7 linked regions of the Homo sapiens genome follow. The protein of the gene in region 1 interacts with the protein of each later gene in a pairwise test. Each region holds a gene or a part of one and is shown in the gene's direction. Other genes may lie near its edges. The genes, in order: KIF9, MID2, CCDC125, OOEP, ZRANB1, PRICKLE1 and HMBOX1.

Evidence for each region.
Region 2: the proteins of KIF9 (region 1) and MID2 interact in binary tests that used the Homo sapiens proteins (3 or more experiments, as listed by UniProt).
Region 3: the proteins of KIF9 (region 1) and CCDC125 interact in binary tests that used the Homo sapiens proteins (3 or more experiments, as listed by UniProt).
Region 4: the proteins of KIF9 (region 1) and OOEP interact in binary tests that used the Homo sapiens proteins (3 or more experiments, as listed by UniProt).
Region 5: the proteins of KIF9 (region 1) and ZRANB1 interact in binary tests that used the Homo sapiens proteins (3 or more experiments, as listed by UniProt).
Region 6: the proteins of KIF9 (region 1) and PRICKLE1 interact in binary tests that used the Homo sapiens proteins (3 or more experiments, as listed by UniProt).
Region 7: the proteins of KIF9 (region 1) and HMBOX1 interact in binary tests that used the Homo sapiens proteins (3 or more experiments, as listed by UniProt).

What each region holds. Positions count from the first base shown.
Region 1 is NC_000003.12:47,244,800-47,248,299, reverse strand, and holds part of KIF9 (kinesin-like protein KIF9), read left to right. Parts: intron 1-213; coding exon 214-282; intron 283-822; coding exon 823-927; intron 928-2,047; coding exon 2,048-2,103; intron 2,104-2,788; coding exon 2,789-2,879; intron 2,880-3,375; coding exon 3,376-3,500. UniProt on the Homo sapiens protein: Essential for normal male fertility and for progressive motility of spermatozoa.
Region 2 is NC_000023.11:107,926,866-107,929,501, forward strand, and holds part of MID2 (probable E3 ubiquitin-protein ligase MID2), read left to right. Parts: coding exon 1-208; 3' UTR 209-2,636. UniProt on the Homo sapiens protein: E3 ubiquitin ligase that plays a role in microtubule stabilization. Mediates the 'Lys-48'-linked polyubiquitination of LRRK2 to drive its localization to microtubules and its proteasomal degradation in neurons.
Region 3 is NC_000005.10:69,322,802-69,326,301, reverse strand, and holds part of CCDC125 (coiled-coil domain-containing protein 125), read left to right. Parts: intron 1-1,589; exon of another isoform or gene 1,590-2,499; intron 2,500-3,500. UniProt on the Homo sapiens protein: May be involved in the regulation of cell migration.
Region 4 is NC_000006.12:73,368,055-73,371,154, reverse strand, and holds OOEP (oocyte-expressed protein homolog), read left to right. Parts: upstream 1-1,257; 5' UTR 1,258-1,362; coding exon 1,363-1,552; intron 1,553-1,769; coding exon 1,770-1,949; intron 1,950-2,291; coding exon 2,292-2,371; 3' UTR 2,372-2,600; downstream 2,601-3,100. UniProt on the Homo sapiens protein: Component of the subcortical maternal complex (SCMC), a multiprotein complex that plays a key role in early embryonic development.
Region 5 is NC_000010.11:124,969,623-124,973,122, forward strand, and holds part of ZRANB1 (ubiquitin thioesterase ZRANB1), read left to right. Parts: intron 1-2,342; coding exon 2,343-2,496; intron 2,497-3,500. UniProt on the Homo sapiens protein: Ubiquitin thioesterase, which specifically hydrolyzes 'Lys-29'-linked and 'Lys-33'-linked diubiquitin. Also cleaves 'Lys-63'-linked chains, but with 40-fold less efficiency compared to 'Lys-29'-linked ones.
Region 6 is NC_000012.12:42,471,247-42,474,746, reverse strand, and holds part of PRICKLE1 (prickle-like protein 1), read left to right. Parts: intron 1-2,182; 5' UTR 2,183-2,230; coding exon 2,231-2,362; intron 2,363-3,500. UniProt on the Homo sapiens protein: Involved in the planar cell polarity pathway that controls convergent extension during gastrulation and neural tube closure.
Region 7 is NC_000008.11:29,015,895-29,019,394, forward strand, and holds part of HMBOX1 (homeobox-containing protein 1), read left to right. Parts: intron 1-2,865; coding exon 2,866-3,019; exon of another isoform or gene 3,020-3,500. UniProt on the Homo sapiens protein: Binds directly to 5'-TTAGGG-3' repeats in telomeric DNA. Associates with the telomerase complex at sites of active telomere processing and positively regulates telomere elongation.

The sequences.
Region 1 (3,500 bases):
TCAGGTCCTCCCAGACCCTAAACTCACCCCAGTTAGGGAAGAGTCACCAGTCGGGAGGGAATCACCAGAAGCTGAAAGCATACCCTGTGGATCCAGGAATGGCCAGGATGTCTGGGCACAGAATGAGGAATTGTACTTTTGCTGTGGAAGAGACAGGGTAGCTTCTCTGATGATCCTTCCTGTCGGCCCCCACCCTACCATGTTTCCCGGCAGAGAATGGTCAAGAACCTGGAGAAGGAACTAGCACTACTCAAGCAGGAGCTGGCTATCCATGACAGCCTGGTAAGAGGCTAGAGGCAAAGAAGGAGGGCAGAGGTGCTGGGGTAGGGGGTGACTAGAGGGACTGGGGCTAGGGGCAGACAGCATCATGGGTCAAGGCCAATGGTGGGCGGGGTTGGGGGGCAGGCTCAGTGGCAGGAAAGGGGCAGCAGCAAGGGTCCATGAGGACAGGGGTTGGGAGCAGAGTCCTCCAACGGTCCTGAGGGGCCTCGAGGCAGAGGCAGCGCATGCCTCCCGTCCTCGCCTTTCTCATGCTGCAGAGTCTGCTGGGACTCAGCCAGCAGAGCCTCTGTCTGGAGTAGCAGGACCCATGTCTGAGGGTCTTTCCTTTCCTCCCCGACCCCATTATCCCTCTCTGACCCAAGCACCTGGCCTGTTGTGTCAGGCCCTCTGGCAGGACCCGATGATGAAGGGAAGGAGCCAGCTTGGGCAGCCAGGGCCTGTGCCCAGCCTCCCCACTTTGCCTCTCAGAATGGCCCCTGCCACTCCCCTGTGGGCTCAGGTTCTTGTTGCTTATCCACATGTTCTTCATCCTCCTTCAAGACCAACCGCACCTTTGTGACCTATGACCCCATGGATGAAATCCAGATTGCTGAGATCAACTCCCAGGTGCGGAGGTACCTGGAGGGGACACTGGACGAGATCGACGTAAGGAACCCCTCTGTGACCACTATGCTCAGCCAGCCTGGGCCTCCCAGTCCTGGGCACACCCCAACGCATGCTCTGCTGGCCTCAGAGCCTCATGTGAATGGGTGCAGTGGGTGGAGGGTGGTGCTGGACTCTTGATGTCAGGGTCCCTTCAGCTCATCTCAGGGGCACAAGCACAGGCCCTAGAGCCAGGCTTTCTAGGATTGAATCCCAGCTCAGCTGCCTCTTTGCTGAGTGACCTTGGCAAAATACTCAACCTCGTGTACTTCAGTGGCCTCACCTGCCTAGTGGGGAGGGAAACAGAGTGGGGATTAACTGAGCTGCTGCACCTGGGGTGCTTGACTGTGTCCGCAGAATGAAGCTGATGAAGGATGGTGGTCATGCTGGTTGTCTACAAGGTAGACCCCAGGGCCCATGTTGGAGTGGGCCAAGGAGGGGGAAACCACCCCACAAGGAAGGGTCCTCAGGGGGAAGGCTGCATCCTGTTTTCACAGTGCAGTCCATCAAACCCCTCTTCTTGGAGACATGGGCAGACCCCCCTGGCTGTTACTGTGGGCAGCTCCGAGAAGCAGGCCTGGGACAACTAAGGGATGGACTCTTCTGGCCTTCACAGGAGGGGCAGTCCCAAATTAACCCTTGATCAAGGGGAATGCTGTGGGCTTTAGGCTGGGGGGAGGCCAGTAACCTTCCTCCAGCCTCGTGTGTGTGTCTGTGCCCATGCAGACAGGACCATAAATGGGCTCCATCTGAAGACAGCAGGCAGAACCTTTTGGAAGTAAGAGAAAGCTGAGAAGTACATTTTATTAAAAAAAAAAAAAAAACCTTTAGAAGGTATTTTCAAGGTATAGAATCATTTCATTTTATAGAGGTCTCCACTTCGAAAAGGTGGTTTTTATAGCCTCAGCAAATACTTAGTTTTAAAATTATTAATCAGGTGTTTCTCTGCTCTGGAGGAGGGCTTGGCTGCCACTTCGCTGAGAGGCTGTGTGCACACGTCCTCTTCTCGAGACAGATGGTCCAGGGGTCAGCCAAGGGGTCTTGATTTCTCTACTAACATAGATGCCCCCTGGTCCCTCGAGGTGCCCTTGGTCTAACCTCTGCCTTGCTGTCTTCCCTCCAGATAATCAGCCTTAGACAGATCAAGGAGGTGTTCAACCAGTTCCGGGTGGTTCTGAGGTGAGAGACCCCCACCCCTACCTCATTCCTACATCAGGCTGCCATTTTCATCTCCTGCCATCTGGGCACTTGCCTCCAAGAGCTCCTCTTCTTGCTTGTGGATGAAGAGCCAAATCAGAGTCCTTGGGGGCATGCCTGGGTCCCTGGTGGATATTCAGTGAGTTCATTAATTGGACAGGAGGTGTTTATGGAGTGCCAGCTCTGAGAGTGCCCAGAGCAGGGCATTGTGAATATTCACCTTGTGAATATTGCAACACACACTCCCACCTCAGGAGGCATTTGTGGTTTATTTGGGTGCAAACATACCCATAGTCTGAGCAGCTTATGCTAGGTGGTGTCACTAAAGCTGGTCATGTGATTCCAAGTGGCCTCTTAGAGACAGAACCTAAGACAGAACCCCACATGGTCCCAAGTGAAGCTTACGGTCCTTATCAAGTGTCATCTTGGAGCAGACACACATGACATAAGGTAGCCCTTGTGGGTATGGGGGTCGGACAGTGGGTATATGCAATGGGGCAGGGGGAAGTGAGTCCTTTGTCCTTTTGTCTGGTCTGGTTCATGATGAAGGTGTGGCCCCACACAAGGGGCCTCACCCATATGACTTTTAACCCCAGTACTTGGTTCTTGCCCCAGTGGATTCAGCATGGCCCCAGGTACAAGCTGTTCTCTCTTGCTGTCTCCCAAGCCAACAGGAACAGGAAGTGGAGTCCACTTTGCGCAGGAAGTACACCCTCATTGACAGGAATGACTTTGCAGCCATTTCTGCTATCCAGAAGGTAAGCATAGTTGCTACTTGCCGACAGCACTCACCTCAGATTTCCCATCCTCAGACCTTTGCAGAGCCAGCAAGTATTAATGCATTAAACCAGAGCTAGGATTGCAACAGATAAAGGTAACACCAGAATGAACACAGGTGACCTGTGTTAAGAGTAAACCACTTTTGAATTAAAAATAATTTCCATAAGGTAGAGACATGGATAATAATATTAAAGACGATTTCCTGGAATTAGGTTGGAAATAAGCTTTAAGATCCCCAGAGTATGGAATGAGGTGCCATACTGGTGAGGGGGTGCATGTGGAAAGTGGACATTTGGCAGAGTGGTCAGGGACCGCTCTACAGGGGACAGCCTGAGGCTGGCATCAGCAGCTGTCAAACCTTGGTGTGTATGGTGAACATGTCCACCCTGAGCCTTGGGCCATATACATGTGGGTCCCCAAGGGGTCCAAGCCCTTAATCTAACTCACAGACCTTTGGCTGGCCTCTCTATGTAGGCGGGGCTTGTGGATGTTGATGGCCACCTAGTGGGTGAGCCTGAAGGACAAAACTTTGGACTCGGAGTCGCCCCTTTCTCTACCAAACCTGGGAAGAAAGCCAAGTCCAAGAAGACATTCAAAGA
Region 2 (2,636 bases), on another chromosome or scaffold:
CTATGACCCAGCTAACTCTCTCCATCTTCATACTTTTGATGTGACCTTCATTCTTCCAGTTTGTCCAACATTTACAATCTGGAACAAATCCCTAATGATCCTGTCTGGCTTGCCTGCCCCAGATTTTATTGATTACCCTGAGCGGCAGGAATGCAACTGCAGGCCTCAAGAATCCCCTTATGTTTCTGGGATGAAAACCTGTCATTAAGTTTCAGGAGAGTATATAATTCACTGGCTCTCTAGTTCAGCAGTTCTTCCCCTCCTACACCTAAGTTAGCGTTCAATATACGAGACACAAAATAAAGTTTGTTTGAAGCATCCAAAATAACTAGATATTGCAGATTTAATTTTTGTGCATTAAAGCTTGTATTTGAATTAATTTATTGAGTTTTTCAGAACAAATTATCTGAGTAGTCTGCGTTCAAGCCATTGGAGAAAAATTTAGAAAATGCCTCTGTTGTCATTGGAGAATTAAAAATTCCCAATGATTTAAGAATATAAATTATATTGGAAGCAATTAGGGTAATTCTAGTTAAATAATGTGGAAAGGTGCCCTGAATAAGGAGCTAGCAAGCCAGAGCGGGGGGTGGTCAGCCTTTCTAGTACTGGCCAGTTTGGCCATGTAGAATTTTGAACAGTGTCAAATTATCACATATTATATTTTACTTTTGATGAAAACCTATCATCAAGGGTTTGTTAGGAAACCATGAATGTGTATATGTAATATATAAAGTGAACATATATGTACTTTATATATATTCACTTGTGTATGTATGTTTATGCATATTCACTTTATATATTACATATACACAAAAAACTTTTTTTTCCAAACACCACCTCGAACTAGAACAAAAAACTTTTTAATTTGCTAATTTGAGTGAGAAATATACTGGAAGGGAAAATAAGTTACACCATCCATTTTTGTCCCCTAAAGGAAACATCAAAATCAATCAACATTTATTTCCTCCCTCTATCCATCATTGCCTTCCTCCCTCCTGTCACGCACACATACACATGCAACCATGACACAGATAATGGGAAGAGCTTTATTGGATTAGCAGAGATTTACAGACAAGATTGCACAAGAGATGCTGTTGCTGGATAGAAAATTGATCAGGTAGAAGTGATGCTACCTACTTGAGGATGGCCATCTGAATTGTTAAAAATTCTGTCATAGACTATTAAAAAAAAAGTTTTACTACTCCCAAGTACACACAGTTATGAGAATTAGGCTTTTAAAAAGTTGCACAGTGAAGGCTCTTTAGGAACCTACTTTACTTAATCAGTAAAAATTGAGTATTATTGATGCACCAACTATTCCCATATAAATGTACTTGCTTTTTCAGATAAAACACTTCTGAAGTGCTCAAGAATGTCTGAAAACAGTTTGTTTTCTTAAATAGGATAAATAATCATTCCTTTTGCAATCTTGTTTACAGTATTCATTCTCTTAGCCAATCCCTCCACGCAAATGGAGACAAACTTCATCCCAGTCCTAACCAGTATAGTTGAAGGGAATGGAGCCTTGTAGTCTATGATTTTTTTTTTTAAATTTCCATCGAAGGGATTGGGGATGTCAGAGAGCCAGAGCTTTCCCCTTTCCAGGAGCTAAGTTGGCTTCGGAAGTCTTCTGGGATTTGTGAAAATATTACTGTTGTAAAATTACAAAGTGGTAGCCATAACAACTCCCTCAGATTGGAGACTTGAAATGTCAAAACTCCCCTCTTCCTTTCCCCTAGTTTGGTGGATGCTCATTTATTAATTCATTCAATAAACTATTAGATGCCAGGTACCAAACTACTGCCATGGGAGTGCACATATTAACAAAATGCTCTACCTGCTGCCAAATGGCTTACTATTCTGTGGAAGAAACAAAGTATATAATCCTCCCCAATAACAGTTATGTATTGTTTGTTCACTTAATGTGGAAGGCAAGACTGATGCAGACACACAAGGAAGGCTCAAAAATATAAATCTAGCAGCAATGTCATCTTTTTTGATTTTAAATACCATATGTGCTTACTGCTAATCAGGAAATGAACAACCTCAGTAAAATTCATCAGTGCTGGTAAATAGTTTGCTGTAGTGGAAAGCTCATAACCTTTGGATTCAAATGATCCTAGTTTCTGTACCATTTATTAGCGTTGTGACCTAGGACAAGTACCTCACTTCTCTGAGCCTGTTTCCTCCTCTGTAAAATAATGTCTACTTCACAAGGCTGTTTCAAAGGTTAAAAAAGATAGCATATGTAAACTGTCTTAGCTCAGCGCTTGACATTTCCTAAGTGTGCCATAAATATTAATCTCTTTCCTTACTCCCAGCTCCAATACAGCGTAACAGTGCTTTAAAATGTATGTCCTTCATTTCTCCTTCATTTCTCAGTCACCTTTGTCTCTTCCCTAGGGCATATCCCCAAATTCTTAAACAAAAAAAAATGATTTTTTTCCCCTTCATCAAACTTTTCACTGGCTCCCTTAGCACCCAGTAGAAGGTCCCAACTCCTTACAGAGTCTGGGTTTTCATGTCCCTGTTTGCTTACACAGCTTAATCTTTTGCCACTTTCCCCCTCACATTGATTAAGGTAGCCAAGTTTAACTATTTACACAACTATTCACACAAGTTATTCTCTGGGCCTG
Region 3 (3,500 bases), on another chromosome or scaffold:
AACTAGATATTTTAGACTTTTACTTTAAGTTCTATTTGAAGTCATAAATAATAGAAACTTGGTATACTCTGATGTTAATTTCATTGAAATTCTCCAAATAATACAAAACAGTGGCTAAGAGTGTTGGCTCTGACATCAGATATCTGGATTAAAAATCTGTCTCTGGGCCAGGGGTGGTAGCTCATGCCTGTAATCCCAGGACTTTGGGAGGCTGAGGTGGAAGGATCCCGTGAGGTCAAAAGTTCAAGACTGGCTGGCCCGAGACCCTGTTTCTACAAAATGAATTAAAAATTAGCCTGGCAAGGTGGTACACATCTGTAGTCCCAGCTACTTTGGAGACTGAGGTGGGAGAATCACTTGAGCCTAAGAGGTCGAGGCTGCAGTGAGCTGTGGATGCCATCACTGCACTTCAGCCTAAGCAATGAGCAACAGAGTGAGATGCTGTCTCTCTTTTTTTTTTTTTTTTTTTTTTTTTTGAGACAGAGGGTTTTGCTTTTTCACCCAGGTTGGAGTGCAGTGACACGATCTTGGCTCACCGCAACATCCACCTTCTGGTTTCAAGTGATTCTCCTGCCTCAGCCTCCCGAATAGCTAGGATTACAGGCACCTGCCACCACACCTGGCTAATTTTTGTATTTTTAGTAGAGATGAGGTTTCACCATGTTGGCCAGGCTGGTCCTAAACTCTTGACCTCGTGATCCGCCCACCTCGACCTTCCAAAGAGCTGGGATTACAGACGTGAGCCACTGTGCCCAGCCCGAGACCCTGTCTCTTAAAAAAAATCCATCTCCACTTCTGGTTGACTGTGTTACTCAGTCTCTGTCTGCTTCAGTTTAATTTTCGTACTTAATAATGGTATTTTCTTGCAGAGTGTTTGTAAAGAATAAATATAATCTAAGGCACTTAAAACTGTCTAGCACATGGAAAGCAGGCAACAAGTGCTAGGTATTATTACATCTTTTTTTTTTTTTTTTTTGAGACAGAATCTCACTCTGTTGCCCAGGCTGTAGTGCAGTGGTGCAAGCTCGGCTCACTGCAACCCCTGCCTCCCGGGTTCAAGCCATTCTCCTGCCTCAGCCTCCCAAGTAGCTGGGACTACAGGCATGCACCACCACACCTGGCTAATTTTTTGTATTTTTTAGTAGAGATGGGGTTTCACCATGTTGGCCAGGCAGGTCTTGAATTCCTGACCTCACGTGATCCGCCCACCTTGGCTTCCCAAACTGCTGAGATGCAGGCATGAACCACCACACCCAGCCTAATGAGTTTTGATAAGTGGCCACTGTGGTGAAGATATAGAAGTTTTCCATTACCCCAGAAAACTTCCCTCATGCCCTTTGTGGTCATTTCTCCAATGCCAAGCAACCATTAATTTGTTTACCATCATTGTGTGTTAGTTTTCCCAGTATTTCATACAGTATGTGCTGTTGTTTATTTATTTATTGTTTTAATTAGTGATGGGGATCTCGCTATGTTGCCCAGGCTGGTTTCGAACTCCTGGCCTCAAGTGATTCTCACACCTCAGCCTCCCAAAATGCTGGGATTACAGGTGGGAGCCACCACATCCGGCCTAGTATGTGCTTTTTTGTTAGCGTAATGTCTGGGAAATTCATTGCATATATCGGAAATGCATTGCATGTGTAATGCATATGTCAGAAATGCGTTGTTCTTTACTGACAAATATATTCTGTTGTATGGACAGACCACAGTTTCTTTGTTTTACTGCAGATGGACACTTGGGTTGTTTCCAATTTTTGACAAATTGAGTGATGTATGAATATTCATGCACACATCTTTGTACGGACATGGGGTTCTGTTTCTCTTGAGTAAATCCTGAAGAATGCAGTTGCCAGGTCACATGTTTGTAAGAAGCTATCAAATTGTTTTCCACAGTGGTTGTACCATGTTTTACTCACATCACCAATGTATGAGAGTTTCAGTTACTCCACATCCTCAGCAGCACTTGGAATTGTCAGTGCGGTGAGGTGGAATCTCACTGGGGTTTAAGTTATAATTGCCTGATAACTAATGATGCTGAGCATCTTTCCATCCATGTATCTTCTTTGATGACATATCTGTTCAAATCTTTTAAGGGTATTTGTTTTTAACATTGAAAATATATGGCATTTTGATCCTAAAAATGACAGAAATTCCTTAATACATGGTCAGATTTATTTGGTGTCTACATAAGGTTTAATAGTGGAAGAATAGAGAGATCTCCACAACAAATGCAAGACTGAGATTAAATGTCTTTCGAAGTTTTGGAAGCAACTACTTAAACAGCAGGATATTTAGAGAAAAATGTTAGACATGTTTATACCCCCACACCCCACTTTTTTTTTTAATGAGCCTTGAGAGAAGGATGAAATATTTCTAAATAGCTATAGCAAAGCAGCTGTTTTGAAATGCCTGGTGGTGAAAGTCCCTCTTAACTGCACTCTGTCCTGGAGGCACAAGGTTGAGCATTTCTGCTTCTCCCGGCTGCTTCACTGTCACCAGGTAGGTGACTAGGGTGGTCTCCACATGGGGAGGGCTCAGTGATACTAGTTGATCTGTAGGCATTTTTGCCAGGAGAAGTTTTCTGCTGGGAAGAAAGGCAGGCATAACTCCTCTGTATCTGCTGTGGAGTCCTGCTAGGGTGCCGGTTTTGTTTTTCTGCCCTAAAAGCAAGTACAGTCTAACCAAACCTGCTGTGCGTGGCCTGAGGTGGGATAGGAGCTCCGTGAGTTCCACATTGGTTGATTCAACCAACCAGGGTTGAAAATATTTGGAAAAAAAAATCCACAGTGTTCCAAAAACAAAGACGAATTTGCAGGACTCAGAGTACGAGGTTAAATCCACGGGAATGAAGTGATGTATAGGCAGTGTATTAGATATTATACGTAATTTAGAGACAATTGAAAATATATATAAAGTACACAGGAGGATGTGCCTAGATAATATGCAAATATGATACCTTTTTGATTAACAAATTAACAAATTTTTTTTTTTTTGAGATGGAGTCTTTCTCTGTCGCCCAGGCTAGAGTGCAGTGGCGCAATCTCGGCTTACTGCAACCTCTGTCTCCCAGGTTCAAGCAATTCTTCTGCCTCAGCCTCCTGAGTAGCTGAGATTACAGGCACACGCCACAATGCCCGGCTAATTTTTTTGTATTTTTAGTAGAGATGGGGTTTCACCATATTGGCCAGACTGGTCTTGAACTTCTGACCTCAAGTGATCCGCCCACCTTGGCCTCTGAAAGTGCTGGGATTACAGGCATGAGCCACCGCGCCAGGCCGAACAAAAAATTTTTTGAGATAGAATGTTGCTCTGTAGCTTAAGCTGGAGTGTGGAGGCACAGTTATGGCTCACTGCAGCCTCCACCTCCCAGAGCCAAGCAATTCTCCCACCTCAGCCTCCTGAGTAGGCGTGTGCCACCAGCTAATTTAAAAAAAAATTTTTGGGCCAGTGCGGTGGCTCACACCTGTAATCCCAGCACTTTGGGAGGCCAAGGCGGGTGT
Region 4 (3,100 bases), on another chromosome or scaffold:
CATGTGGAGTCTGGAACATGCTTTTCACTATTTTGAGTTTTTTCTTCTATGCTGGCTGTGGTGGCTCACGCCTGTAATCCCAGCACTTTGGGAGGCCAAAGTGAGAGGACTGCTTGAGCCTAGGAGTTCAAAACCAGCCTGGCAACATAGTGGGACCCTGTCTCTACAAACAGACAAACAACAACAACAACAAAAAGAGCTGGAAAATAGCTGGGTGTGGTGGCAGGTGCCTGTGGTCTCAGCTACTCAGGAGGCTGAGATGGGAGGGTCGCTTAGGCCTGGGAGGTCGAGGCTTCAGTGAACCGAGATCGTGCCACTGCATTCCAGCCTAGGCAAGAGAGTGAGACCTATCTCAGAAAAATAGAAGTTTTAAAACAAACACATAGTTAATTGTAAGAACGAAATAGTATATTCAGCAGATACTATTCTGAAACAACCAAACAATATTTCTACAAATATAGTAGAAAATGTGTAAGGACATGCATGGGGATGATATATACACACTAGCTTCAGGATGATTTCCTCTGGAGAAGGAAAGGAAAGATGCTTGAGTAATATCTGTTTTAAAAACAGAGGAGTGAGGCAAATGTGGGGAAATGTCAACATCTGTTAAACTCGGGGAGGGTACATGGCCGTGTTATATTACTTTTTTGGATGTGTGAAACCTTTCATAATCCAAATTTTTAATTAAAATTACAAACATTGGGAAAAAATGTCCATCGATAATGGTTGTCTTAGGATACTGGAAATAAAGGAAAATTGTCTAACTTGCTACATGTTCTATAAGACCACCTCTGACGTGTTGTTTAAAACATGACACACTTGCTTGAATGATTTAAAAATGGTAACCATCCGGAGAGTCAGAAGATAACAACAGGGAGCAGAACAGAGAAAACTGACACATTGAACAAGCCTGCCCTGGGTCCGATATACCTATCTTTGGGAGGCAACGATGAAACCTTAACCTAGCCAGCAAAGGTGATTCCCAGTCTATTAATAGAGTCGTCAATTCAAACTCACACTGTTAATCAGCTATAAGGTGGGCAGAGGACTTTCAGGCTAAGCATACCTTACGAGCAGAGATGACGAAGGAGAGCATTGGAGACCCAACAGGAGGCCAAATGAATACTAGTTCAAGGTCAAAGAGGCAATCCCGGCGATTGAAGCAGCGCAGGAAGTGTCCAATGGTGCCGCTATGCCGGGGCGTCGCTTGCACCCGCTCACCCCGACGCGGTGCGAGGCGCCGCCGGAAGGGGCGGAGCGGGTCGAATATGGTAAAAGAGAGCCCGAGCTTCGCGCCTGGGTCTGGAAGAGGTCTTGCGAAAGCCGCCTCGAGCGCGCTCCGCGGCTGCTGGTCCCAGTATGGTCGATGATGCTGGTGCCGCTGAGTCCCAGCGGGGCAAACAGACTCCGGCCCACTCCCTGGAGCAGCTGCGTAGGTTACCACTTCCGCCGCCACAGATTCGCATCCGGCCCTGGTGGTTTCCGGTGCAGGAACTGAGAGACCCTTTGGTGTTCTACCTAGAGGCATGGCTGGCAGACGAGCTCTTTGGTGAGCGACCCCAGGTGTGCTAGTGGGCTGTCCACCTCCAGTCTGAGAGAGGCTTGGCAGAGCAGCTCTCTACAGTCTCTTTCCCAGATTCGCAAGCCAGGAGTGTTGCAGTGATGCCCACCTTCCAGTTCTTCCCTTCCCTGGCCAACATTCCCTTCAAATCCAGCTTCTAACCTGCCACCGTGCAGCCCCTCAGAGTTTTTCCTTACTTGTTTAGGCCCAGACCGAGCCATAATTCCAGAAATGGAGTGGACGAGCCAGGCCCTGCTGACAGTGGACATAGTGGACTCAGGGAACCTAGTCGAAATCACCGTTTTCGGGCGGCCCCGTGTACAGAATCGGGTGAAGAGCATGCTCCTGTGCCTGGCATGGTTTCACCGAGAACATCGTGCCCGAGGTGAGGGTCTTTGAGAACCTGCATGTGGAGGAAGCCACGAGTGACCATACTGGCCTTGCTCGGTTTCCTTCCATCCTCCCTTAACCTTCTCAAAATTTCTTGGTTTCCAGACCCCAGGGAGCTAGCTGTACGAAGTTTGTTGGGAGGGGATCCTGGGGTAGGACCTTGGGAAAGTCAGCAGAGATCTGATAGATTCAGACCCATCACTGCCCAAGTCAGCCTCACCTGGGTTACAGCACTATCGCAGATCTTTCTCTCCTCCCCAACTCCCAGTCACGGAGTAGTTCGAAACAGCAAACACTTGTCCCTGTCCATGGTTAGTATCAACTGCTTCTCTTCCAGCTGAGAAGATGAAACACCTTGAGAAGAACTTGAAGGCCCATGCATCAGACCCCCACTCTCCCCAGGATCCTGTTGCTTAAGACAACATAGTTACTGTTGGGAACATCTTAACTTTCTAACTTTTGCTGCTAAAGTTGAAGAAAAGCAAGTATAGCATTCTTAAATCCCCGTATTCCTTTTTCCTGTGTCTTGATGGATTGTGGTTTATTTTGTTGCAAGAGTGAGTTTGAACTATTCTAATAAAGAAATGGCTATTTTGCCAAAAGCATTAAGATCTTCACACACTTATAATAAAGCAAATTTATAAAAGATTGACTCCCACTCATGTTTTGATATGAAGGGTGGGCAGGTGATAGTTTTGTAGGTTTTTGTTTTTGTTTTTTTTTCCTGAATTCCCATCATTTTGAAACTCCTAATCCTTTTATGATTTTCTGGTCAGAGAGAGGCCCTCACCCACAGGGAGCGGATATGCAGGGGCAGATAACCTCACAAATGGTGATCTGTTTTGTTTTTACATAATTGGTCCTCAAACTTTAAAGCTTGTAAGAAATCACCTTGGGAGCTTGTTAAAACACAATTTCCTTGGCTCCTTCTCCAGAGAATTCTGATTCAGTACTTTTGGGGTGGGGCTTAAAATTTCATTTCTGATGAGCTCACACATACTACTAAAGCAGCTTATCTGAGGCTCTCACTTTGAAGCTGGTAATTGATCCCCCGAAGAGCACCAGCTGTGCGTTTTCCTGGAGTGGGGCATCCATTGGGCAGAGGATGACGTTGCAAGAAGCAAGCCTGGGCGGTCAGCGTTCATT
Region 5 (3,500 bases), on another chromosome or scaffold:
AAGTAAATGAGATTACAAAGGAAATCAGTTGTATTGAAGTAATAGCTACCAAAATACTAAACTAAATTTGTGATATATAAGAAAATACATTTTAATATAGGTAAAAAGTTGGGGATAATTGATTTAACTTGAATTAAAACCAAATTCCCATTAAAGTACATGGACCATTCCCAAGATCATGGACCCTAAGTTAAGAACTCCCAGCCTACGGAGATGGTTGAGAACCATAAGGTTGAAGGAGGTGAGAAGGTGAGTGGCAGGCTTCAGGGGCACATCCTGCTTAAGGATGGTGGTGGAAGGGGTTGTTTGGGGGCTAAGTTTCTTTTAGAATGTTTGTGGTAGTCAGGGTCCAGTCCAGGTGGTTTTTGGAAAGGTCTTTCCAGGTTTTTGGAAAGGGCCTGAGAGCTAGCTGATGGGAATAAGCTATTTTTGAATTTACTTTGGGGGAGCCATTTTAACTATGTTACTTGAGAAATAGTCAATTATATTCTGAAAATATTTAATATTTGGTTTTCCATGTTTGAGTGTTGACTAATGGTTGGGCTCATGGAGTTAAGATATAGTGAGAATTTTCATGGTTAATGGTAATCTTGGCCAATAAAGTCTAGTTGAACTGAATTTCCACGTAGGAGTTTTTAAATTTTTTATTTTTTTCTTTTCTTTTGAGACAGACTTTCTCTCTGTTGCCCAGGGGAGTGATCATGGCTCACTGCAGCCTTGACCTCCCTGGCTCAAGTGATCCTCTCACCTTTCAGCCTCCCCAGTAGCTGGGACTACTGGTGCATGCCACTAATGCCTAGCTAATATTTTGGGGTTTTTTGTAGAGGCAGAGTTTCATTATGTTGCCCAGGCTGGTCTTGAATTCCTGAGCTCAAATGATCCTCCTGCCTTGGCCTCACACAGTGCTGGGATTACAGGTGTGAGCCACTGCACCAAGCTGCAGTTTCAGAATAGGGAGTCAGGTAACTGTGCTGGGTATGCAGGGTTTTTGAAATATTATTTCTTTAATAGCAATAGCAGTTAGTTGTCTGCATATATGATGTAGATAACATTATCATTAAACCTTACTCTTTGAGAAGAAGAAGAAGGGGCTGGAAGACCTGTTGCTTCACACCCCACTGTGGCTGGAAGGCTACCTTTGGGATAATCGTCCAGGTTGGTGACATCAGGGAACAGGCTCACTGTGGGTTCCCACGGTATTCTCTTTGGGGTTTTTTTTTTTTTTTTTTTTTTTTGGCAGAGTCTCTCTCTGTCACCCTGGCTGGAGTGCAGTGGCGCGTTCTCAGCTCATTTCAACTTCCTCCTCCCGGGTTCAAGTGATTCTCATGCCTCAGCCTTCCAAATAGCTGAGACTACAGCTAATTTTTGTAGTAGTATTTTTAGTAGAGACAGGGTTTCATCATGTTGGCCAGGCTGGTCTCAAACTGCTGAGCCGAAGCAATCCACCCGCCTCGGCCTCCCAGAGTTGGTGGGATCACAGGCGTGAGCCATTGTGCCTGGCCTTGAATTCTGTTTGTTACTCGCAGATGCTCAACTGTGATTTTAGAATTCTGTGTATGTATTTTTATTTAGCTCCACAAACTAGATATGACTGAAATGTGAGGTTAAATTAAATCTTTGCAACATTTGTTGCTATTTAGCATTTTAAAAAGAATAAAAAAATAACAAAAGAAAGTTCTAGCCTTCTTTGGTTTGTTGTTTTCTTGCTTAGAGGCCTGTGCAGTAGTGCTCCCATCTCACTCCTGTCAGGCTGAGCTTCAGAGGTTGGCAGTCTGTGTTTAAACTTGCAGATGCCAAATGCTTTTTTAAAAACTCAAGAGTGGTAACAAATGGAGAGGAAGAAAGGGCTTGAGGTCAGTGGGAACTAACCCTTTAAATACCGTGCTTTTTTTAAGTCCAAGTTAGGGTACTTGAAACTTGTGGTGTGGGAGAAGAGTATTTGCAGTTTCCCTTTATCAGCTGTGATTCTCTGCTTCTAAAGAATGTTTTTATTGTGTGCACGATGGTTAGTCTACTGAGGTTTTCTGTCCTCTCTCCTCTTCCTGTGATGTGTCTATGAACAACACCCTTTTCCATACATTTTTATGTGCATCTTTGAGTATTTCCTTGTGATAAATTCTTAAAGAGAATTACTGAATCAGAGGATAAAACATTTTTGTGACTGTTACTGAAAACTTATTCTGGTATATACTTTCATTGGTAAGGAAATAATACCAGTGTATTTTAAGATTAAAGAAAACCTTGAGTTATTGGGAAATTTTGCTGATTTCTTTTAAATACTGTTGTTTTCTGCTTCCACTTATGATACATGAGATGAGAGGAAGGTTTCTTTTGTATTTAAGGTGTCTCAACAAGCAGCAAAGTGTATTCCAGCAATGGTGTGTCCTGAACTGACAGAACAAATCCGGAGAGAGATAGCTGCCTCTCTTCATCAGAGAAAGGGGGATTTTGCTTGCTATTTTCTGACTGACCTTGTAACATTTACATTGCCAGCAGGTAACTCCAAAATCTAACGTAAAAAGACTTTTTTATTTTATTATAGTTACATTTGTGTATGTAGGTGAAAAATGTTTCTGTTAGAAAGCACATAACATAGCTACTGTATGTGCATCTTAAATTACTTGACTGTCTTATATATGCTGGAAGTGAGCATACAGAGGATTACTTGTTAGGAAATGCGTCTGCTATCTGAGAGGAAGACAGCAGTTGATAGTAACGGATTTCTTTGTGGACCTCAGATTATTTTTTAAAAATCTGTTGTACTCTTTTATTTTTCTCTTTGGTTTTATTTTAGAATATCCTTTAAAAAAATCTCCTTTGAAAAATTTTCCCTTTTCATGCTTGTGTGTTATTTGAAATTAGATAGCTATATTGGTTACCTGGTATTAAGAGATGGGATTAGAACATGAGCTTTTGATGGGTAGAGTCAGGTTATTTGAATTGAACACACTGCATCCTCTTGAATATGTCATTCCTTTTTTACTCATTTATTTCTACTATGTTTGTGAAGGAACTTTTCATTTTTCAATTCATTGACAGTTGAAAACATCCTCCAGAATGCGTTTTGTCAGTTGGCATTGAATAAATACACCAAACACCAAACGTTTCTAAAATCTTTCATCTGAGATTCTGAGATCTGTTTGTTTTGTTGCTGTTTTTTTTTTTTTTAGATTGAAACGGGGTCTTGCTCTGTTGCCCAGGCTAGAGTGCAATGGGCGTGATCATAGCTTACTGCGCCTTCAACTTCTGGGCTCAAGTGATCTCCTGCCTTGACCTCCTGAGTAGCTAGGACTATAGGCACATGCCACCCACCCCTGGCTAATTTTTAATTTTTTTGTAGAGATGGAGTCTCGCAGTATTACTCAGGCTAGATCTCAGTGTTTTTAATTTTTATGTTCAGACAAACGGATTTTTACAAATTGTAGGAGATAGTAACTAAGTTTTCTGAAACTGGAGGAAGTTTCATTTGAAATGCACTTGTTCTGAGTATTTAAGCTTAC
Region 6 (3,500 bases), on another chromosome or scaffold:
TTCTCCTGGTAGGAGTTTTAGAGTTACTAATTAAATTCTTAACCTCTGGTTCTCTTCCTTTGACATGTGGGAGTGGTTTTTTCAAAATATCCAAGACATTTTCTGACTCATTAACACATCCTTTTTTATTGAGGAGTCAGAGGAATACGCCTATGTTTAGAAAGCCTTTCCTTAGTCAAGACATGAATGAGTCGCACCTGTGTGAAATGATGCCTTGTTTAAAAGGTCATAACCTCCCAATGGTAGTGTAGGAAATGAGGTCATCTTCACTTCTTGTTCAGGGTGAATGAAAGTTAAATTTATTAGTTGGAATAATATATGTGTGGCATTGCTCCTACTGCTAATAAAGATTGTAGCTATGAGGTGCTTGCCCTTCATTTATGAACTGTTACAATGTTAATTTTCTCAATGTCCTATCATTTATAAAAGAAAAACCATAAATTTTAATCAAGTTTTATTTTATTTTATTTTTTTCGAGACGGAGTCTCGCTCTGTCGCCCAGGCTGGAGTCCAGGGGTGCAATCTCAGCTCACTGCAACCTCCGCCTCCCGGTTTCAAGCGATTCTCCTGCCTCAGCCTCCCGAGTAGCTGGGATTACAGGCACCCACCACCACGCCTGGCTAATTTTTGTGTTTTTAGTAGAGACGGGGTTTCACCATGTTGGCCAGGCTGAGCTCAAACTCCTGACCTTGTGATCCATCTGCCTCAGCCTCCCAAAGTGCTGGGATTACAGGTGTGAGCTACCACGCCCGGCCAATAATCAAAGGTTTTAATAGGTAGTATTTTCCAACACTCAGTATTTAGAGTTGAATTGAGATAGTCACTGAAAAATGACTTAGTCTCAGGCTGAAAGTGTATGGCTTTTCACTGCCTTTTACACTTGTTTAAGCAAATGAGAACTTTTTTTTTTTTTTTGACATCCTTCCTGAGATGGAAGAATGTTTATTGAGGCAGAAGAATTTTTGGAAGTCTGACATGTCAGTGTGTATGTGTGACTAGACTCTGGCTTTTAGCCATATGACCTTGGACAAGTCTCTTGACTTTCCTGAATCTTGTTTTCTCTAAAATCATTGGGTCGGGATAATTATCTATAATTTTCTTTCTTTACATCATTTTTTTGTGGGTGAAAGGCCCAGGTATAAAAAAGCTCCATCTCTCCATCTGGTTCTGAAAGTTCTGCTATTATTATTTTTTTCTTTGTGCCCTGGGATGAGGGATGATTTTAATAATCAGAAGATACAAAGAACATAAATGGTGATAGCAAAGTTCCTGGGTTCTAGGGCAGGGAATGTTGTCTTGACACTTTTATAGCCCTTCATCCAAGGAGGCTTTTTATTCAGAGGAGGATTTACATCTTACTCTGCCCATAGCAGGCTGATGACATTTCACACATACTAGGCACTGACTGCATAACTTTTCAGCGAATGCCTGCTTATGATGCAATTAAACATTAACAGTCACCAAGCTGGATTTTATTTTCACATAGTACTGTATTCAGTGACTGTTTGTTGAAGGAACTCACTGATGAATGTCTGACTGACTTTAGCCCTTAGTAAAGGCTTGAGGATTTAATGTGCAGTATAAGGATTTAATTGTGCTATTTCTATTTTGTGTGTAAACTCAGTTTAGTGTCTTACAAAACATAATTAGAAATCTGAAACCTAAGCAGTTTGGCTGAGTGGACCCACTCTCAGGAGGCAGCACTGCCTCAGTTGGAAAAATTGCTTAGGAAATACAGGGGTGCCGAGTGGGGTCTTGAGCCATTTTTCCTGGGGCATAGTAGTGGGCAAGGCAGGTAGCCTGACCCCGACACTTCTTTCTACAACTTACAGTATGTCACAAGGATTTGTGGGCAAGTTAGAAAGTCAACACATCAACTTTCTTGAGAACTTTTCTAAGGAATCGACTGTAGAGAGGCACCTTTTAAAGGCTCCTGGAAATAAACTAGCTTTGGTGGCATGTTCTGAAATTCTGAGCTGGCAAAGAGACTACTACCAAATTATATAGCTCTAAATTTTAAATTTCAGGGGGCCTGGGGCCTGGGGGTGGTGACAGTAGTAATTTGGTTACTTTCTCTGGGCCCAGCTGTCTGTTAACAGCATTCAATAAAAGCTCTGGGTCGGGGGTAAGAGAAATGCATTCAGGTTTTAGATGTCTTTGTTTTTTCTTATATTGTTCACAGCAGCCATTGTTTGATGTCCTGTGACTGAGAAACCAGGCTTTAAACTTTATGCCTTTGGAGATGGAGCCCAAGATGAGCAAACTGGCCTTTGGCTGTCAGAGAAGTTCCACATCAGATGATGACTCTGGCTGTGCATTGGAGGAGTACGCCTGGGTCCCCCCGGGCCTGAGACCAGAGCAGGTAGGAACTTCATCATCCTATATTTACTCTTTGTTTTTCAGTGTGAGTTCAGACTTTAGAACATTATTTTGTAAATGGATAGAACATCACTGAGATGCTGGAATACCACCCTCCTCAGTCCTTATTCTTCTTTGTATGGCTTTGAAGTTTTACTTTTGAAGGTCATATTTAGTTTCTCAATGGAAGTTTCCAATCTCGTCGTACCCATGGTTCCAGAAGCCTCATAAGGATCCCATTTTTGCTCTAATGAATGAAATCCAGAGTACTACATATGCATTGGTTATGTGTATTTCGGATGAATCCCTCTTGAGAGTGAGAGGAATTTCCCTTTTAAAAAACTTCTGTGACAACAAAAAGGCAATAAAAGAAAAGAGAAAAGTTTCCATGCCAGTTCTCAGCAATGCTTTTGCTTTGGAAGCGAGATAGTGAGCTATCAGAAACCCTCTGAAGTGTTACTGCTTAGACGTTTGACCTTTGATAACTTTGCATATAAAAGAGCCTGTCACTTACACCACAGGGATTGGAAAAAAAATTAAAGAGTTAATTTTATGCTTTGTTTGTATTGTTATTTTAGGGAAGATGAGAACATTCCATATGCCTATTTAATTTTCCCAATATCTTTACAATGATTAACTTGTTGAAAATCACTGGCGATATTATTAAAAGAGCAGAGGCATCATTTGAAAATAAAGTTGACAGTGGGGTATGTGGTTGCTTTGCTTCTGATGTTAGGGTTCTGTTTCCTGTAGGGTGGGACGTTTTATGAGAATAGGGTATCCTTATTTATCCATGGCATAGCACAGTACCTGGCACGCATGTAGCTGATATTCAGTAAGTGTTTATAACTGTAAAAAGCTTCTAGAGCTGATAGAATGGGGAGAGGGTGGAGTGCTGGTGAAGCAGTTAGAAAAGCAATATTTTGACAAACTACTTAGAGAGAATCCCTTCTTACAACTTAGAGTGGGTAGGTTTTGTGTGGTACTAAGGTATTGAAGTAGACAGGCCCTAAATTCCTGTCTCCTGTCTTTTTTTTCTTTTATTCCTTCTCAGCTCTGCAGTATCCTTTGCAGTACTCATTAAGGGATGTTCCTTTAAAGACATCAGAAAAACAAACAAGCAGAAATTAAGTTTTCCTTTC
Region 7 (3,500 bases), on another chromosome or scaffold:
ATAAAACTTTATTTACAAAAATAGGCAGTGGGTATAATTTGCCAACTCTGTTTTAGGGTGGGCTGTAAATCTCTAAAGCATTATATGATGACAAACTTACTTGTTTAAGCAGAAATGTTAAGTAGTTAAATATTTACTTTCCATCACATGCTATAAGAAATCACATACATATTAAAGGCTGAAACACAAAATGAAAGATATAAAGATACTCAGTGATATTCAAGCCCATTGGCCATAATACAAAAGACTGACAAATTTGACTGTATTAAAATTAAGATCACAAAGCACACTATAAAAAACAAATGACAGACCAGAAAAAAATTGCATTCTGTATGACTAGCAATTGCTATGATTTCTCTGCACCCATAAGAAGAATAACCCCCTAAAAAAGGAACAACAGATAGAAATTCACAAGAAAAGATATAAATGGTCAATAAACAGGAAAAGATGCTCATTCTTATTAGTAGTGAAGTCTCTATATTAAAGGGAAATTTTTTGCTGCCAAATTTATACATTTGAATAATTAATAATAGTGTATTGGGGGATAAAGGGAAATAAACAACTGAGGATGATTGTGATAATTTTTATTAGTTATCTATTCTTATACAATAAATTATCCACAATTTAGCAGCTTAACACAACCAGCATTTATTATCTCATAGTTTTCATAGATCAGGAATCCAGGAATGGCTTAGCTGGTTGTTTCTGGCTCAGAGTTCTGTAGAGGTTGCTGTCCAGCTGTCAGCCTGGGCTGCAGTCATTGGGACTGGATGGTCCACTTGGAAACTCACTCATGTGGATGTGGACAGGTCCCAGGTCCTCACTGCCTGTTGGTCAGAGACATCAGTTCCTCACAACATGGGCCTCACCATCCACTGCCTGAGTGTCCTCACACGGCAGCTAGTTTTCCCTTGAGTGAATAAGAGAGAAAGCATCCAAGACAGATGTCATAGTGTCTTCTGTATTCTGATCCTTGAAGTGACATACCATCACTGCCACATGCTGTTGGTCGCACAGCCTAATCATGGTGCAGTGTGGGAAGGGACTATACGGAGGTGTGCAGACCAGGAGGCAGGGATCCTTAGGGACCTTGGAGGTTGATGTCCACATTCCTGTGCTGGGACTGAATGTCTGAGGCCTTGTTTCTGTCTATCACCTGGTTTCTGCACTTCTCCATGTGGCATTTGCTGTGGCTACAGTGTCCAAGATGGCATTTTCTCTCAAATGCTGGCACCTGGGTGGAGTTGGCAGAAGACCCTGGGGACTGTCAGAGCATCTTTCACTCCATGTAGCCTCTCCACATGGCTATCCTGGGCTTCCTTACAACATCATAGTCTCAGGTTAGTCAGACTTCTTATATGGCCTCTGGTTTCCCCCAGAGCCAGCATTTTAGGAGACCTAGGCAGAAATTTCAAAGCATCTTATAACCTAGCCTTGAATTGTTTAGATTTTCTTGCTCAACAACCTGTCACAGGACTGGCCCAGATTCAAGGGCATGATTAGCCAGAGGTATGACTTACTGTGAGGAGCCGTCTTTGAAACTTGTCCCAGGAAACCATGATTGTGAAAGATGATGCTGACGTGTTCTAAAAGTAGTAGCAGTGCAAGGAATAAAAATTGATCTGATACTGGAAATATTTTGAAGATAAAATGAACTTGCCTATGAATTAGTTATGTATAGGTGGGATAATTAGAGAAGTGAAAGATTAATTTGAGAATTTTGAGCTGAGTGGTTTGAAGAGTGGGTATCTATTTACTGAGATGGGAAAGACTGCAGGACAATAGGTTTGAAAAGCAAAATCAGGATTGATTAACATTTTGGACATCTGTGTAAGAGAATACATCTAAAGATGTAGCTATTAAGAAGGGGATCTACAATAGATCTGTAAGTCTTGAAGTAGAAATGCTATCCATGGTATTATTTGCAAGGTACAATAAAGAGAGTATTAATTCTATTAGGAAGAAATAAATATTAATATCATTAACATAGAATTAACATATTTATTAATATTGCATAAACCTACATGTTCTAACATGTCTTTCTACACCTGTGTTAAGCATTTGAATTAAACTACAGGCAGAGAGAATTTTTTGAAGGTTTTTGATTAGAAGACCGATATGATCATAATTATGTTTTGGGAAGATGAATTTAACAGTGTAAGGAGTGAAAGAAGAGTGGGGTAGCCAGGGACTGAACTCTATGAAAGCATACCAAGTTACATTGAAAGTCTATGAAATAAGTTCATGGAGGTCACAGACAATGTTGCTTTCCTGGTTTTATTCTTAGCTTCTAGCCTAGAGCAAGCCACTTGAAAGGGATTTGTTAAATAGTGAATGAATGAATAAATGCATCATTGGCAGTTCAAGCTATTTGAGAAAAGAGTAATCTGAATTAGTAAAATGTCTCAATTATAGATATTTTTCATTGAAATTTTATTATGTTCAGGAGGTAACAGAATCTAGTATAGCATCAACAGGTAGACCTATGGAGACCTGATTTAGTTAGTAGACAAAAAGCATATCAAATATCATCTTATTTTCTTTCATGCTGTATTTCACTCTTTAAAAAAGAAAAGAGTTTACAAGAATTAGGGTTATTTTAAGTTTGTCTCCTACCTGCATAAATTCCTTAAGCTTATAACTTATTTGAATGGTTAGTAAAAGATTCTGAACATCTGAGGTATATTGTTCAAAAAGAGTATAACTATCAAGCAGGAATTTCAAAAGAAATTTTTCAGAGAAAGATACATTGATTAAGTTGTCACTAAGCCAAAGACCATACTTCCCTAGTCCCATAGGAAGTAGATGTTATATTGTTTTAAATAAACTGCAAGATATTTGCTAAAAGTGTCTTGTTTATTTCAGGCGCTACACTAAGTATGAGACCAGCCCCCATTCCAATAGAGGACCCTGAATGGAGACAAACGCCTCCCCCAGTCTCTGCCACATCTGGTACTTTCCGACTGCGACGAGGGAGTCGATTTACCTGGAGAAAGGAGTGCCTGGCTGTTATGGAAAGGTATGTGTCTCCTTTTTCTACGAATGATCTCCCAAACTTAGGGAAGACATCAACTCTGGATAGACTGGGACAGTTTTCATTTCAAACAAGTAACTTGGTATCTTGGTTCTATCTCTAAAAGTACTTTAGAATATCATAAATGCTGTATTATAGAAATAAGGTCATCTTAGCATTGAGAATTCATAAAGCTGGAGTTAGCATCTGTCAATTTATTTTACTTATAATAGTGTCCCCAGTAATTTAAGAAATGTTGGAATAAATATTTTTTGAATTCAGATCTTTGTATTATATTTTGGAAAAACTCTTTGAAGTCTTCTTTTCATCAAAAATAATGAATAATTGTATAGGAGACTACTGAGATTTAACTTTCCTTTAATAAGGAGTATGGTCTAAGTAAGCTTTGTCCCAAAGGTTAAAAATACTTATTTTTGACTTTGTTTTAGTAATTTATCCTCTCATTCTGTCACCAGTACCTGATCCA